Linked DNA regions of Homo sapiens: region 1 is linked to region 2. The links come from fine-mapping of genetic effects on gene expression. Tissue or cell type: fibroblasts. Region 2 holds a variant in brackets; the other region holds the start of a gene. All regions are shown on one strand. Distances are between the middles of the regions.

Region 1 (8,129 bases), 330 kb after region 2:
TCCTCATGTTCCATCTGCTACTAAAATGTATTATTTGTATGTCAGGCTGCAGAGTGGTCAAAGAACAACAGATTTTCTTGGCACTCCCTGTACATATTCCATGTAGATAAATATGGTGCTATCTCTAGGAAAATACTACAAATAATAACTGTCAATTCTTAGCAACTAGCAACATGCATTATTAAAAACAAACACAGCCTCTCATCTATAAGTTCCACTTCATAAAACATGTCTTTATGAGTCTTTATTGTTCCCATATGTGTAGCTCCACAATATTTTTGCTGCAGAATACAAGAATTACATAGATCACTAAAGTCCACAGATAATTCAAAACCTTCTGCTAGCCAATTATTCAATCCCTTCCACTGCTACGCTATTTGCCAGAGATGCTAACAAATAGCATAGTCAACTGGTTTGGGTTTCATACACTTTTCCAGACATGCTTGCTTTCTAATGGCCTATTCAAACAAGAGATTTATTTCTCTTAATTCTAAGTCTTTGAGAATTTGACCAAGAGGCATGAAATGTTCAATTCATTCTTTAAAACTGTTGCCTGGGGTCCCCTTTTGTCCCCCATTTAAACCTATCCACTGTTTAACCACTTGTATCATTCCTGATTCTTCTGTCTTACAATTCTGTGCTACATTTCTCTGCATGTGGTTTTGATTACTGTTTTTTCTGTATTCTTTATTGTATTCTATTTTAATTCTCCAAAAACTCAATTTATACACTGTCCATGAACTTATGAAAAAAAAGTGAAAGCAAAAATGATTCTCCACAAAACAGAGCAGCCAACTGAAAACTTTAAAAGCTTGAAAATTTTATGAGGCAATTAATATGAACTGATATGACATCTTCAATTAGATTCAAAGACACTTAGGATTACAAAAATTAGTCAGGCATGGTGGTGCACGCTTGTATTTCCAGCTACTCAGGAGGCTGAGGCATGAGAATCACTTGAAACCGGAAGGCAGAGGCTTCAGAGAGCAGAGATCGTGTCACTGCACTCCAGCTTGGGTGACAGAGTGAGACTCTGTCTCAAAAAGAAAAAAAAAAGACACTTAAGATGAAGAGAATTCCAACTCCTTATCTTATAGATAAGAAAACCGAAACCCAGAGAAAGGCTAAGTGACTTGCCCAAAATGATACACACAACTAGATACATCTATGATCTTATACATAAAATTACGAATTATCACCAGGAATGGTTCTTTTCACAGTTAAGAATAGCCCCATGAAGTCTGTTCCCAAAACCTGTGCAGGCAGCCACAGTGGCAAAATTCCATATCTGGGCCGGGTGCAGTGGCTCATGCCTGTAATCCCAGCACTTTGGGAGGTGGAGGCAGAGGCAGGTGGATCACCTGAGGTCAGGAGTTCGAGACCAGCCTGGCCAACATGTCGAAACCCCATCTCTACTAAAAATACAAAAATTAACTGGGCGTGGTGGTGCGTGTATATAATTCCAACTACTCCAGAGGCTGAGGCAGGAGAATCACTTGAACCCAGGAGGTGGAGGTTGCACTGAGCCGAGACCACGCCACTGCACTCTGGCCTGGGCAGCAGACCGATACTCCTTTTATATATATATATATATAAAATAAAAATTAAAGAATAAAAAAATTCCATATCTGAAGTCATTCCTTTAGGTCAAAACATTATCTCAAAAATTCTGAGATAAATAAAGTTGTTATTAGGGAAAATGGGAGAGAGTAACAGGGGAAAATATTCTAGAGTGTTAGGTTCTAAGTTAGAAGGTAGAAAAAAAAATACATATAATCAAAATGACTCTTGAAATCACCCACACACCTAAGTCACCTATAGAGTCCAATATGTATGTTTATTCATTGTGTTTTTCTTGAGACAGAGTCTCACTCTGTCAGCCAGGCTGGAGTGCAGTGGCGCAATTTCAGCTCACTGCAACTTCTGCCTCCCGGGTTCAAGCAATTCTCCTGACTCAGCCTCCAGGGTAGCTGGGACTACAGGCATGCACCACCATGTCCGGCTAATTTTTGTATTTTTAGTAGGGACAGGGTTTCACCATGTTGGCCAGGCTGGTCTCGGCCTCAAGTGATCCGCCCACCTCGGTCTCCCAAAGTGCTGGGATTACAGGCGTGAGCCACCGTGCCTGGCCTAGACTTATGTCTTAATGAGTCCCACACAGTCAGGTTTTCCTTTAGCAATAGAACAGAATTTTTTTTTATCATCAGATAAAGTTGCTGACTGTAATTTAAAAAGTAGTTTGTTCCAAATACATATACCTTTATTTATTTATTTATTTATTAGACAGAGTCTCACTCTGTCACCCAGACTGGAGTGCAGTGATGTGATTTCGGCTCACTGTAACCTCTGCCTCCTGGGTTCAAGTGGAACCACAGGCACACTGGGACCACAGGTGTGTGCCACCACACCTAGCTAATTTTTGTATTTTTTGGTAAAGATGTGGTTTCTCTACCAAAATGTTGGCCAGGCTGGTCTTGAACCCCTAACCCCAAGTGATCCGCCTGCCTCAGCCTCCTGAAATGCGGAGATTACAGGCATGCACCACTGCACCTGATCCCAAAACACATACCTGTAAATAACAGACTAGCACTCTGCGAGGGTACAGAAAAACCAGTCTTGTCTCCCATGCTGTCCTTACTAAGGGGCCTACTCTCCCTGCATTGGACAGCTGGCCTCATGTACTATTTATCTGTTATTTGTCTCCCACTCTCTTCTTGATTTGCCTAGAAGTACCAGGTGAATTTGTGCCATTTAATGCGTATATGATCTGACTCCATGATATTCCCTTATTCCCATGTTTGTGTATGGATGTAGTGATCTAGGTTAGATACTGGATGTGTAGGTACTGCAGGAGGAGGTAAAGCCTGGACTCAGGGCAGGGCAGGTGCAGTGAAGACTCCTAAAGCAGCCTAGGGACTCGTGGGTGTGTGGAAGGAAGAAGTGTTGAAGGAAATAGGGAGAAGGTCATTCTCTGTGGGACAGACTTAGCTCCAAATGTGATTTTCACCATGTTCATGATTTTTCTTCCGTTTGAATTTGATAGACACATTGCAACACATCCCATTTCGCTGATTTTCAAATAAGGACTTGATCACTGGCAAGTGACCTTACAGCAAACATAAAGAAATCAACATTTGGAAGTGCATTTGCCAATTAGTGCTCTAGGCGGCAGAAAAACCAGACCGCCACCCCTTGAAGACCTGCCACAAAGAGCCATGTGGAAAAACTGCACAGAGAAATGGTGGTTGTGAACAAGAGTACTGCCCTGGAATGAAAGGTTTTAGGCTATGTTGGACTCACTGAAAAAAGAAAGGTTAGTCTCATTAGAAAGTTTACCTGGCTCTAAGAAAATAATTACTTATCTGCTAACACAACTTCCATAGCAATGAAACAAGTTCCTGTAAGTATAAATTATCACAATTCCAAGCAGACAAAAATCTGTGTCTCCTGAACACATTATAGGGGTCAGCCTATAGATAACTCCATTATAGGGGTCCTCCTAAAGATAACCTAAGTTATCTTGCATATTGTGTCTGCAGTGTCCACAATGAGTTGGTCTGTATTCACACTGGATGATACAGGATTTCTCCACCAGGTCCTCTCACAGGACTCCAGGCATTTTTACAACTTGACCACACAAAAGAACACTCAGGCTGCTCCTCCCTTGCTCAAGGGAAGTACAGTAATGCCTCTCTCCGTAGCCCTTTCATAAGACTGTGCATAGATAAACACAGGTGTATACATAGCAATCTTTATGAACTTTGCATTGAATGTGTCAAAGAACAGTGGCGGTCCCAACATTCCATCCATTGTCTCAATCAGGAAAGCTACTCCTGAGACCTCAGGAAAGAGGAGGAAAAAATTCAAGTAACACATATGTTTACGAAACACTTCAGTAACAAAACAAAATACTTGTATTGGAGAGAAAATATATATATTTTTAATCACAAGGCATAGAAAGTAAAAATAATCAGCCTTAATTAGGTTTCCTTCATTAGTTGACAATGTAAATGGACTGAAACTACTACTCAAATATTCAAACCTTCATTTTACATGCAAGTGGCTTCCAGAAAATGATAAAGCAATATTCCCATGTGAGTGTGAAAGATGGCAATGAATTCTGGCCCATTATAAAGGAAGAGTCAGATTCCACTAGTCACTGCTTCGTTTAACTGCCAGGCTTTTAGGGAGCTATTTAATAAAAGGGGTCTCGCCCTAATAAATTGTGAGCGGTGTAAATAGGTGAGTGGTGTAAATATCTGAAATAGCCTGCACTCAATGAGGCTGTAGACCGCTTGGGGTTCACAGACTTTACAAAAATCATTCCGTAAAAAAATTACGTAGTGACAATCCTACCATTTAAAAAGAATAATGATGGTGATAATAATAGCTGGACAGGATCCTCCACTGCTGCCTGCTTCCCACATAAGTTGCCCAGCTGAAGGTGGTTAAGTTAAAGCCAGTTCTCTCCCCATTAGAGATGCGGGCTGGCAGCTGGCGGGGGAAGTCACCCAGTTTCCAGCTCCCCGTGGGTTTGACGGGACTGGGATTGCAACTGGGAACTAACTGGCTTGTAGGAAGCCCAGGTGGCTCAGACAGGGCTCGAGCTGTCCCCTCACCACCTTCCTCCCACGCAGACACCAAGTTAGATACGCAACTCCACGAGCACAATGACAAGAAGGCACACAAAAGGAGCAAGGCAGCCGCTCCCATCCTTACCTTTGACTTGACTTTCATACTCGGCTATGATCTCTTTGTCCTTCTTGAATCGGCTCGGGGTGGACATTATCCAGCTGTTCCGGGTTTGCTTTCAATGGGCAAGTTTTGTTCAGTGGTCACAACCCGTTCTCCTTGGAGAGGCAGAGTTGTACTCCCACACGCAGGCAATCCAGAGGCAGCGCCGACCCGAGGGAAGGGAGGAGGGAGAGGAGAAGTAGGAGGAGGAGGGGAAAAAGAGCGAGTAGAGAGGACTAGATTAGCCCGGGCGCTGGCACCATACTCTCGAAATTGAGCTCCGTCGGTAATCCCAGGGGATCCCCGGGGGAGAGGCCGGACGCGCAGGCAAACTCCAGCCAGCGAGTGGCGGGGGACGTCTCCCTGCCCACCTCGCCGGGAGCCCGGCCACTTCCTCTACGGCCGCTGGGCGGGCGCGGGGCTCGCGCCGGCGCTCCGCACCATTGTTCGAGACCCGCACCGGGCGCCCGGGACAGGGCCAGCGGCGGAGGGCAGGCGCTGGGAACGCGCCCAGCTCGGGCGCCACAACCCTCCCTTCCTGCCTCCAGCTGTCGGCTCCGGCGCTCAAGGGTCCCGCCCGGGCTGGGGATGCTGCTGCCACGGCCGCCGCTCCTCTGCCCGCAGACACTGCCGCTACAGCTCGGCAGGCGAAAGGAATCGCAGTCCTGACGCGAGTCCCCGCTGCTGCTGAGAGGGTGAAGGCGGCGACGCTCAGACGCGCCCTGGGCACAGCCCCGGCGGAGTTTAGGTCTCCAGAGCCGGCGCCGCGAGGGGCCTCTGCCTCCCTGGCCGCGGTGCGCCGAGGCTGCCTTTCTCTGCGTCCCCCTTTCCGCTGCTGCCCCCAGGAGGCCGCTAGTGACAGGCACACTCGCACACGCACGCGGGAGCCGCGCCCCCGGCGGCAGCAAAGTTGAGGGTGCGCACACGGCTCGCGCCTCGCGGGCGCCCGGCTAGCGATCTGCGGGCGGTGGCTCCTCGGGGCTCCGCCAGGCGGGGCCAGGCTCGCGGGAGCGGACCGCGCTCCGGCCTGTGCCCTTCTCCGTCCAAGCTCCCGCCCCTGCTCCGCTAGGAAACGCCTGGCTGGTCCGGGAAGATGGATGCCTCTTGTGGCCAACCGCAGCCCGGCCCCGCGCGCCGAGCCCAGGAGGCCGTGGGCGGCGCCCCCGGCACCTCCCTCCGCCGAGGCCCCGCACCTCCCTCCGCCGAAGCCCCGCTCCACCGCTAGCCGAGGTCGCGGCTCCGGCGGCAGGAAAACCCCTTCCTGACCTGAGGGACCGCCTTCTGGCTCTGGCGGGGGCTCTGGTGGGGCTTTTGCCAGAATCTAATGGGGAAGTCCAGAGTTGGATGTATCCATGACACAAAGGGATGTTACTCCGAGACGCTGGACCCCAATAGAAAAACTGAACACTGAATTGTGAATGACCTGGCTGTTAATCCAAAGAGCGCGAAGCTCTTCAATCGAGGCGGAGAAAAACACCCACCTTGAACACCATATCCTCTATTCCTACAGTAGATAGGGAAGCTAGGATGGTAGGAAAGCGATGGTATGGAAACACGTCACACTTAACGGCGTTGTTAGCTTATTTATTTACTAAACTCCAGATTTTATTCCAATTTTACCAATTTTTTCGACTAGTGTCATTTTTTCTGTTCCAAGATCCAACACAGGACACTACATTGCACTTAGTACTTTTACGGTTGTTTTTGTTTTTGTTTTTTGATTTTGTTTTTTGGGGGTTTTTTTTGAGACGGGGTCTCACTCTCGCCCAGGCTGGAGTGCAGGGGCACGAGCTCCGCTCACTGCAACCTCCGCCTCCCGGGTTCAAGTGATTCTCCTGGCTCAGCCTCCAGAGTAGGTGTGACTACAGGCGCCCGCCACCGTGCCTGGGTAATTTTTGTATCTTTAGTAGAAACAGGGTTTTGCCATGTTGGTCAGGCTGGTCTTGAACTCCTGACCTCAAGTGATCCGCTCACCTCGGCCTCCCAAAGTGGTAGGATTACAGGTGTGAGCCACGGCGCCCGGCCACGTTTTTAATAGATACCTTTTACAAGATCTATCGTGTCTAGTCTCTTTTTATTTTATTTGTTTGTTTGTTTTCATTTTAGTACAGACGGGGGTCTCCCTATGTTGTCCAGGCTGGTCTCAAACTCTAGTCTCTTTTTGAACAATATAACGAAGAATTTACCTTGCCATCTTTGCATGGTTCAGGTGTTGTGTTAAGTACTTTAAATCCATCCTTGCCAGCCTTTTAAATTTTTTTTTATTATTTTTACTTTTTTGTAGAGATGAAGCCTTGCTCTATGGCCCAGGCTGGTCTCAAACTCCTGGCCTCAAAAGATTCTGGCTGGGCACGGTGGTTTACACCAGTAATCCCAGCACTTTGGGAGGCCGAGGTGGGCAGATCACAAGGTCAAGAGTCCGAGACCAGCCTGGCCAACATGGTGAAACCCCATCTCTACTAAAAATATAAAACTTAGCCGGGCATGGTGGCATGTGCCTATAATCCCAGCTACTCAGGAGGCGGAGGCAGGAGAATCGCTTGAACCCAGGAGGTGGAGGTTGCAGTGAGCCAAGATTGCACCACTGCACTCCAGCCTGGGCGACAGAGGGAGACTCCTTCTCAAAAAAAAAAAAAAAAAAAAAAAAGAAAATCCTCCGACCTCAGCCTCCCAAAGCACTGGGATTACAAGCATCAGCCACCACACCTGGTTCTGTTAGCCTTTTTGACTCACACCACTTGAGATATTTACTGACTCCTTTCAAATCAATTCTCAAATATTATGGGCCTGATTTATCAAAATGATGTGTCCAAAGGTGTATCCCCTCAAGTGTTTTCCCCACAAGATCTAAAGAAAGTAGGGACTTTTAGACTTTGATCATTCTTTCATGTATCCAGTGATCGGCTCTCCAGTTCTTAACTCTGTGCCAAACACCACGCTAGGAACTAGGGATTCAAAGATTAAGACTGCCGGAAAGGATCATGCAGTCTATTACTGTATAAATAAATAATTACAAGCAGTACAATAATGCTGTAAGAGATAGAAATACTCCCAGTCTTGGGAGCACTGGGGATGGAAAAACAGACTGCATAAGAGGATTGGGTGTAAGAGTTCGCAGAGGAGTGGTTTTGAGCTGGATTTAAAGGATGAATAGTAAGTAGCTGGCAACTTTAGGGAGGAAAAGGGATGCATTCCAGGGAAAAGGAAGAGTGTTATACTCTAGAGGAATTGCAAATAGAGTGACAAGATATCTTCCACTAAGATACCAGATCTCTGCTAGATGGTGAAAAATAATGTAAAAAATTGTAATATATGTATATGCATGTGTCAGCTGATAGTATGTGGGTATGTGGACATTGTTAATTGCACTGCTTTTTTAAAATCTAATTTTAGCA
Region 2 (8,129 bases):
GTCAAAGTTTCCTTGCAGTTCAACTTGTCAGTGGCCTCATCAAACAAAGAAGGCAGCTTGTTGTCACCAGCAACCAACATCTGGTTTAGATGTGGCTAGCATGCCTAGTTGCTGTAACAGAGGGGATGTCATAATTAAACTGCAAGTCATGGTGAAGGGTATGGCTGTCATACATTACCACACTTCTGGGATAGAAAACAAGGTCTTGAACTTAGCAGGGAGATGCAGGAATACAGTTATTATGCACTTCTTGAAATTGTCTCATTCCAAAAAACATTTGGTTTTAGGGAAACACTTTGGAGAATTAAAACACATTGAAAAGCTAGAAATAGGTCAAAGTGATTGCAAAACAGTCTTTCAGCATTGTGGTGGGGCACCTACTGGCTTTCGTTGGTCACCCAATCAGAGAGCTTGTCTTTAGACTAATGCTATTCAGCTGGTTACCATGGCAATGATGGAGTACTAGTTGTCATGGCAATGAAATGGAAATTTGGGGGACCAATTTCTTTAGAAGAGGTGGATTCATTAAGCCCTTTCTTTCTTTCTTTCCTTAAAACTTGACCATGTCATACAATACTTTTAAAGGGTGTCCATTTTCATACTCTATACATTTTAGGATCTATAAATCTTTTCTTATTCTTGGATCTCATGTCTTAAGTCTTTTCACCTCTGTGATTTGAGTAGACACCCCCACCCCTACACAGTCTTTTGTGGCTCATATTAAAGAATGACACTGCAAAAGCTACGTTTCTTTTCATCCCCCCAAAAGTGTTTCTGCCAAACTCCATTGGATTCCTCCAAAGTTATTTTGGTATGAAATAGAATAGGTCAGAATAATTATATTGGACTAAATGATAAATGAGACTTCTACCAATGCATTGCAATCACCTGTTCCTCACTGAGGTGTTTATCAGAATTGTACTTTAAGGCAGATCCTTTTGAGAAGCACCAGAAGCCTGGCTCTTTTTCCCTCCCTGGGCTGATGGGGGTTTTATTCCTTTTTGCTTAGAGTCCACTCTGTGGGATCATCAATGGGAAATAGATCTTGTTCACTTGTTACGCAGACTTGAGTGACCTTTTTCTTGACTTCTCCCAAGGAATTAATTTAGCTGCTTATTTTGAGATTCTAGAAAAGAATAAGTGGTTATATATATACGTATATATACATATACGTATGTATACATATGTATACGTATGTGTACATATATACGTATATATATAAGTATATATGTATATATGTGTGTATATGTATACACACACACACACATACATATATATATATATTTGTTGTTGTTGTTTGTTTGTTTTGAGATGGAGTTTTGCTCTTGTCACCCAGGCTGGAGTGCAGTGACGCTATCTCGGCTCACTGCAACCTCCGCCTCTCAGGTTCAAGCGATTCTCCTGCCTCAGCCTCCCGAGTAGCTGGGATTACAGGCGCCCATAACCACGCCCAGCTAATTTTCATATTTTTAGTAGAGATGGAGTTTCACTATGTGGGTCATGCTGGTGTCGAACTCCTGGCCTCAGGTGATCCACCTGCCTTGGCCTCCCAAAGTGCTGGGATTACAGGTGTGAGCCACTGTACCCAGCCATAAGTGGTAATATTATCGGGTTGGCTAAATCTGGGGATTGTTAGAGATTTTAGAGAAAATATATTGGATCAAATCTGAATTCATGGACCTCTAAATTTTTCTGAGATTATTTTTGTTGTATTAACATGAACTCTGGAAAAGACCTTTTGGTATATTTTTATACTGCGAGTTTGCTGCTATAGAATTTTTACAGGATATTTGTGACAGTAATTCTCACATTCTGTAATGAAGGAAAATCCCTTGGGGATTTAGAAGGAACCTCTAAGAGCCTTTCCTATAATCTGTAACCCCTCATTATTATAGATACACTACTTTACATGAAATCCTGCGGGAGGCTCAGTAGACCTTGCTGGGTCGAACACCCCCTGTATCCGAACTCAGGCTCTGTGACCTGAGGGTTCCAATCCTGCATAAGGAGGAGGCTGGGCTTTTGTCTGAGATCCTCCCCCTTTTTACTGCCTATTGCCTCCCTCCGGTGCCTGTGGATTGGCCTGCTGGAGCTATAACAAATTACCACAGGCCAGGTGACTTAGACAGCCGAAATGTATCTTATCTCAGTTCTGGAGCCTTGGAGTTCCAGATGGGAGTGTCAGCAGATCTGGTTTCTCCTGAGGCCTCTCTCCTGGGCTTGTAGATGGTGACCTTTACCCTGAGTCCTCATGTGCCCTTTCCTCTGTGTGCACATATCCCTGGTGTCTCTTATGTTTGTCCAAATTTCCTCTTCTTAAAAGAACACCAGTCAGATTGGATTAGGGCCCACCTTAACAGCATCATTTTAACCTAATCGCCTCTTCAAAGGCCCTGTCTCCAAATACAGTCACATCCTGAGTGCTGGGAGTTAGGGTTTCAACATATATTTTAAGGGGACACACTTCAGCCCATAGCAGACTGCAACACCATATTATTTTCATTGTTGATTGTTTCCAGCAACTCCCTGGCTGGGATCTGAAAGAAATGGTGACAAGCTTCATGAAATCAGACAGAAATACTTCACCATTCTCTGCAGTGTTGGGGCACAGGAGTAGGTAAGGGGTCAGGGGGTGGTAAGGAAGCAATCTCTTGATGTTCCTGGGAGCATAGCTGGGTTTCCTTGGCCTAGTGAGATGGACAACATCAGAAGGGGTTTGTGAGAAGTAAGGTGTTATTAAACGAGGCAAGAAGAGCAGATGGGGTGGGGGTGGGGGGCAGAAATGCCCTTTTTTTTAAAGGCCTCTTCTTGGACTAAGATTTGAGTTCCCTTAAGGATTACAAACTGAAGATTAAGATGCAAGACTGGAATAATTTTCAAATTTACACAAAAGTCTAGATTTGTAGGTTCTCTTAGATGATGTGACAACAGAGCCCATATTCCAGAGCAGAAATAATTTCTTGCTAACCTCCTTGGGCTTTATTAAAATAGCTTCTTTGCTTTCAAAGAAGATATGGCAGATGAGCTTCAGCCAAAGGAAGTGAAGCCAGTGATCACTCTATGAGCCATGCTGGAAGGCCCCAGCAGGAAGTGAAGAGGTGGCCATAAGGTGAGAACTGCTCATCTTGCTTGGGGCAGACTCAGTGTGTTCAGGGCTCCCAACCAACCTATAAGAAATAATCCATCAGAAAGGTGTCCAGCAATGTCCCCTGCAGGGAAGAAAGGGCATGAAGGTACTACCACCAACTGGCTTGCTGTTATAGTTAGGCAATCTTTTTCTTTCCTCCCTCCCTCCTTTCCTCTCTCCCTCCTCCCTTCTTCCTTCAGTCCTCCTTTTTTCCTTTCTCCCTTCATTCTTTCCCTCCTCCCTTCGTCCCATTTTTTCCTTCCTCCCTCCTCCCTCCTCTTTTCCTTCCTCCCTCCCTCCCTCCCTCCCTCCCTCCCTCCCTTCCTTCCTTCCTTCCTTCCTCCCTCCCTCCCTCCCTGCCTGCCTGTCTGCCTGCCTAGAGGTAGTGTTGGGGGTGGTAGATACTGGCTGCTGGGTCTGAGTCCAGGGACAGTGACAGAGGCAGTGATGTCTTCTAATCATTTCTGTGGCATAACCCTGAGTGAGTTCCTAGCTAGGAGACCCTCAAGCCTAATTTTCTGGTCTTCCTGCAGGTTCTCTGAACTACTAAAATAGCTTTAAATAAATTCAGCTTTTGCATAAATTATCCAGAGTCAGTTTATTTTGCTTGCCAAAATGAATGCTGATACTCTTTGTCCTCTGCCCAGACTTACTGGTCACAGACAAGAACCTTGAGATGGCCACAGGTCCCAAATTGTTATCCAAATTTCCAGAGAGACCCAGAGCCTGTCTTAGGGAGCCCCAGATGAGTCAGTCCCCAGATACATTCCATGACTCCTCATGGTAATAGTGTCACTTCCTTGAATGAGGAGCTTGAATGAGGAGGTAGGTGAC[C/T]AACTCTTTCCAGCAGCAAATTATGCCCATTTTTTTTTTGTTCTTTGCAAATGAAACATGCTCAACAAGTTCAAACTAACTTCAATGGAATTTCTAGCTGTCCGTGTCCAAAGTCCCATCAATAGTTGTTCTCTTTTTCTTTAAGTATGAAAGTGTTTACTGGAAAGAAAAAAGAATTTCTCATATTCTGTGCTTTTCTCTTGCACAGAAAAATACAGCACCAACCTTAGATTTAATTAGAGTTAAATTATGACCCAAGCAGGAATAGGGGTCATTCTGAAAATCACAGACTTGGCAGAGACTTTCAGAAATTATTAATGCTGTTCCCCTATCTCTGGATTTAAAAAATTGGATTATGCAAGAAACCTGAGTGTTGGGATTGGGGGTGGGGAATGGAGTTCGAGAGAACCCTGGAAGTGGAGTAGGGAGTGGAGATAGCCAAGAAGCATCCTTTTCTTAGGTTGATTGGGTGTCCATCAGCTCTCCATCCCCAGTGAAGTTCCATCTCTCTCCTCCATACATTAAAATAATGCCTTAGTTTTTCTTTTATTGAAAAATTAGTAAATTTATTATCAATACTAAAAAGCAAACAAAACGGAAAGGAAAAATAGTCACCTGTAATTTCACTACTAGAAGATAATTACTGTTAATAATTTGGTGTCTGTATTAATCTAAACTGTTGCTAGTGACAACTCAAACTACCTTGAGTTAAAGAAAACGGAAATGCATTAGCATATAAAACTGCTAAGTCCAGGGTTATATATAGTTTTAGGCTTATCTGCATTTAAGGGTTCAGTGTCATGGGGGGTTTGCGTGAAGAAGTGAGATGATGTGTTCCCCTTTTTAAAGATTATTGACTTATTTTTGTCTTTAACTGTCTTTCCTGCTCATCAGAGCAGAAGGAATTCTTTCTTAAGTGTAGTATAAACATCCACCCTAAAAGCCTCTTCCCAGCAAAGAGCTGAGAAAGCTGTAGATGCTCATGGGGCTAAAACAAGCAGACTTTTGTGAGGTGCTAAGAGCTAAGTCACAATATAGATCCATAGCATGTACATTTAAAAAAAGAAGAGGAAAGGAAAAGGATGCCCATGTAAACCGTAAACAGTGGAAGTCTAGAACCGTTATGAAGCCTGTCTTGCTTCCAGCTGCATGCAGAAATGTAACATTGATATTTTTATCATTTATTCTCTGGATACCAGATTCCTTAACTCAGAAAGAAGGATACCAAATTCCTTAACTCTTTAACTCAGGGACTTTCTAGTTCATGGGAGTGCTTATCCTGACTCATAATTCTTCATAATTCTTCCTTTTGTTTCTTCCTTTTGTTTCCTATATCCATGCATACATAATTCTTCCTTTTGTTTCCTATATCCATGATATAATGACAAAGGGACAAGTAGAAAATTTACATGTATTAACAAGTTAATATATCTTGCATAGTTTAAAATAACATTACATTTTAAGTCAACTCTCTCTATTGCTTTTTCTAGAATAGCTGTAAATGAGAAAATGATCTCATTTGTTCCACCAGTTGGGCAAACTGACAAATAATTACCACCAAAGATATGCTAAGGAGAAAAGTACTTCCTTCACCTACTAGGCACAATTATGTGATATGTTGCCTGTAGCATCTGTTTTACTGAAATGCTTATTTACTCCTTCTGTGTAATTGTTTGAGCCTCTCAGTCATGTGCCAACATGTTCCTCTGATTCTTTGTGTTAGCGTTGGCAATTTTAGATTCGCTGCTTCGGAGGAAGCTGCTGCTGTGTTTACCCTGCAGGCAGGGATGTTGTCCAGTACTGTGCTTTGGACACAGCTCTCAAAAAGGCCAGCAACTACTCAACTGTTGGTGCTTCTTTGCCATATTCAGCATATCAGTACAGGACCAAGGAGACAACTACTGCATCCCCTGAAGCACTTCGAAGCAAGAAGGAACCTCAAGGCCCATAATATGGGAGGAATGAGAGCCTAAGAGGGAATAGATGGACTTTTGGAAATTTTACTGTGACTAGCAGTTAGAGGTTGGAGCGCAGGCAGTGTAACTCTAGAGTGTAATAAGGATGGTGCGGCCGGGCACAGTGGCTCATGCCTGTAATGCCAGCACTTTGGGAGGCTGAGGTGGGTGGATCACCTGAGGTCAGGAGTTTGAGACTAGCCTGGCCAGTATGGCGAAACCTCGTCTCTACTAAAAATACAAACATTAGCCAGGCGTGGTGGTGCGCACCTGTAATCCCAGCTACTCGGGAGGCTGAGGCAGGAGAATCGCTTGAACCCAGGGGCAGAGGCTGCAGTGAGCTGAGATCGCACCACTGCTATCTCCTGTCTTCACTGTGACCAATATATTTCCAGGTCTAGAACTTCCTGGTAATTATTTTACAGAATTTTTTCTGCTCATCTTGCATTGCCAAGACTCAGTTATCTTCATTCTAAGAATATTTCTCAATTCTAGTAGACTTTTAAAACCATGATCTGCATATGACCTAATATGAATTCTTCTTATTTTTATTTTCAGACGGGGTCTTACTCTATTGCTCAGTCTGGAGTGCAGTGGCACAGTCTCGGCTCACTGTGACCTCTGCCTCCCAGGCTCAAGTCAAACGATCCTCCCACTGAAGTAGCTCCTCCTGAGTAGCTGGGACCACAGGTGTGCACTGCCATGCCCAGCTAATTTTTTATATTTTTGGTAGAGATGGGGTTTTGCCATGTTGCCCAGGCTGGTCTGGAACTCTTGACTTCAAGTGATCTCCCCGCCTTGGCCTCCCAAAGTGTCGGGATTACAGGCATGAGCCACCATGCCTGGCCATGGATTCTTATTTTGAAATTTCCTCTATTCAATGTAAGTTATCCCCAGTTTCCATAAGTTATTTTGAGGGGTACATAAGCAGATATATTGGAACCCCTTCTTCCCTATTTACATCATTGGAGGCATTTGGTTCTCTGGCAATGAGGCTTACTATTTTTTCTTCATCAATACACTCCCATTCTAAACAAGATATATTGTAACTTTTCTTTTTCCAAGTGGAGATTTATGAGCTGTTATGGATGACCATTTTATTTATTTGTTTTGTTTTGGTTGAGTATTTTCTTTATTCAGTGAATATTATTATGTATCTTGTTTCACACCATGCTAAACAAATTTTCCTCATTTCTTTTTTTTTTTTGGAGACGAAGTTTGGCTCTTGTTGCCCAGGCTGGAGTGCAGTGGCATGATCTCAGCTCACCGCAACCTCTGCCTCCTGGGTTCAAGCGATTCTCCAGCCTCAGCCTCCCGAGTAGCTGGGACTACAGGCATGTGCCACCACGCATGGCTAATTTTGTATTTTTAGTAGAGACAGGGTTTCTCCATGTTGGTCAGGCTGGTCTTGAACTCCTGACCTCAGGTGATTCGCCTGCCTCGACCTCCCAAAGTGTTGGGATTATAGCTGTGAGCCACCATGCCTGGCCCTTTTTTTTTTTTTTTTTTTTTGAGATGGAGTCTCGCTCTCTTCCCCAGAGTGCAGTGGTGCGATCTCTGCTCACTGCAACCTCCACCTCCCTGGTTCAAGCCATTCCCCTGCCTCAGCCTCCTGAGTAGCTGGAATTACAGGTGAATACCACCATGCCCAACTAATTTTTTTGTATTTTTAGCAGAGATAGGGTTTCACCATGTTGGCTAGACTGGTCTTGAACTCCTGACCTCAGGCAGTCAGCCCGCCTTGGCCTCCCAAAGTGCTGGGATTGCAGGCATGCGCCACTGCGCCTGGCCAATTTTACTCATTTTTGATCACCTTTATTTTTTCCTTTAAAAATATATTTTTTTTGTTAAAAAAAAAAGAGAGAAACTAGAATACCTCTAAGATGAAACAAAACACTTTCTGCCATGGTTCTGCTTCTAAATGCTAAAGTGATTAAACCAGGTAAAACGAGGATAAGTTCTGGCTGAGTCCTTTCCAAGCCATCATCTCTTTCTTCTTTTAAATTTTAATTTTAAGTTCTGGGGTACATATGCAGGATGTGCAGGTTTGTTATACAGGTAAACGTGTACCATGGTGGTTTGCTGCACCTATCAACCCATCACGAAGGTATTATGCCCAGCATGCATTAGCCATTTTTCCTAAATCTCTCTCTCCTCACCCAAACCCCCTACAGGCCCCAGTGTGTGTTGGTCCCCTCCCTGTGTCCATGTGT

What was found. PIP is the estimated chance that this variant, and not a neighbour inherited with it, causes the effect.
Region 1: SRGAP1 starts here. The variant in region 2 is fine-mapped to the expression of SRGAP1 in fibroblasts (GTEx, PIP above 0.99).

What each region holds. Positions count from the first base shown.
Region 1 is chr12:63,841,474-63,849,602 of GRCh38, reverse strand. It overlaps SRGAP1 (SLIT-ROBO Rho GTPase activating protein 1), which reads right to left and starts at 4,903. Exons shown (of 22, transcript NM_020762.4): 1 at 4,720-4,903. The coding sequence starts at 4,786. RefSeq lists silencers at 5,061-5,320, 5,431-5,490, 5,551-5,970 and enhancers at 4,897-5,396, 5,397-5,898.
Region 2 is chr12:64,167,733-64,175,861 of GRCh38, reverse strand. No RefSeq gene overlaps it. Among named protein-coding and RNA genes, the nearest start is that of KICS2, 50 kb to the left of the region's middle. The variant C/T (reference allele first, on the strand shown) is at 3,962.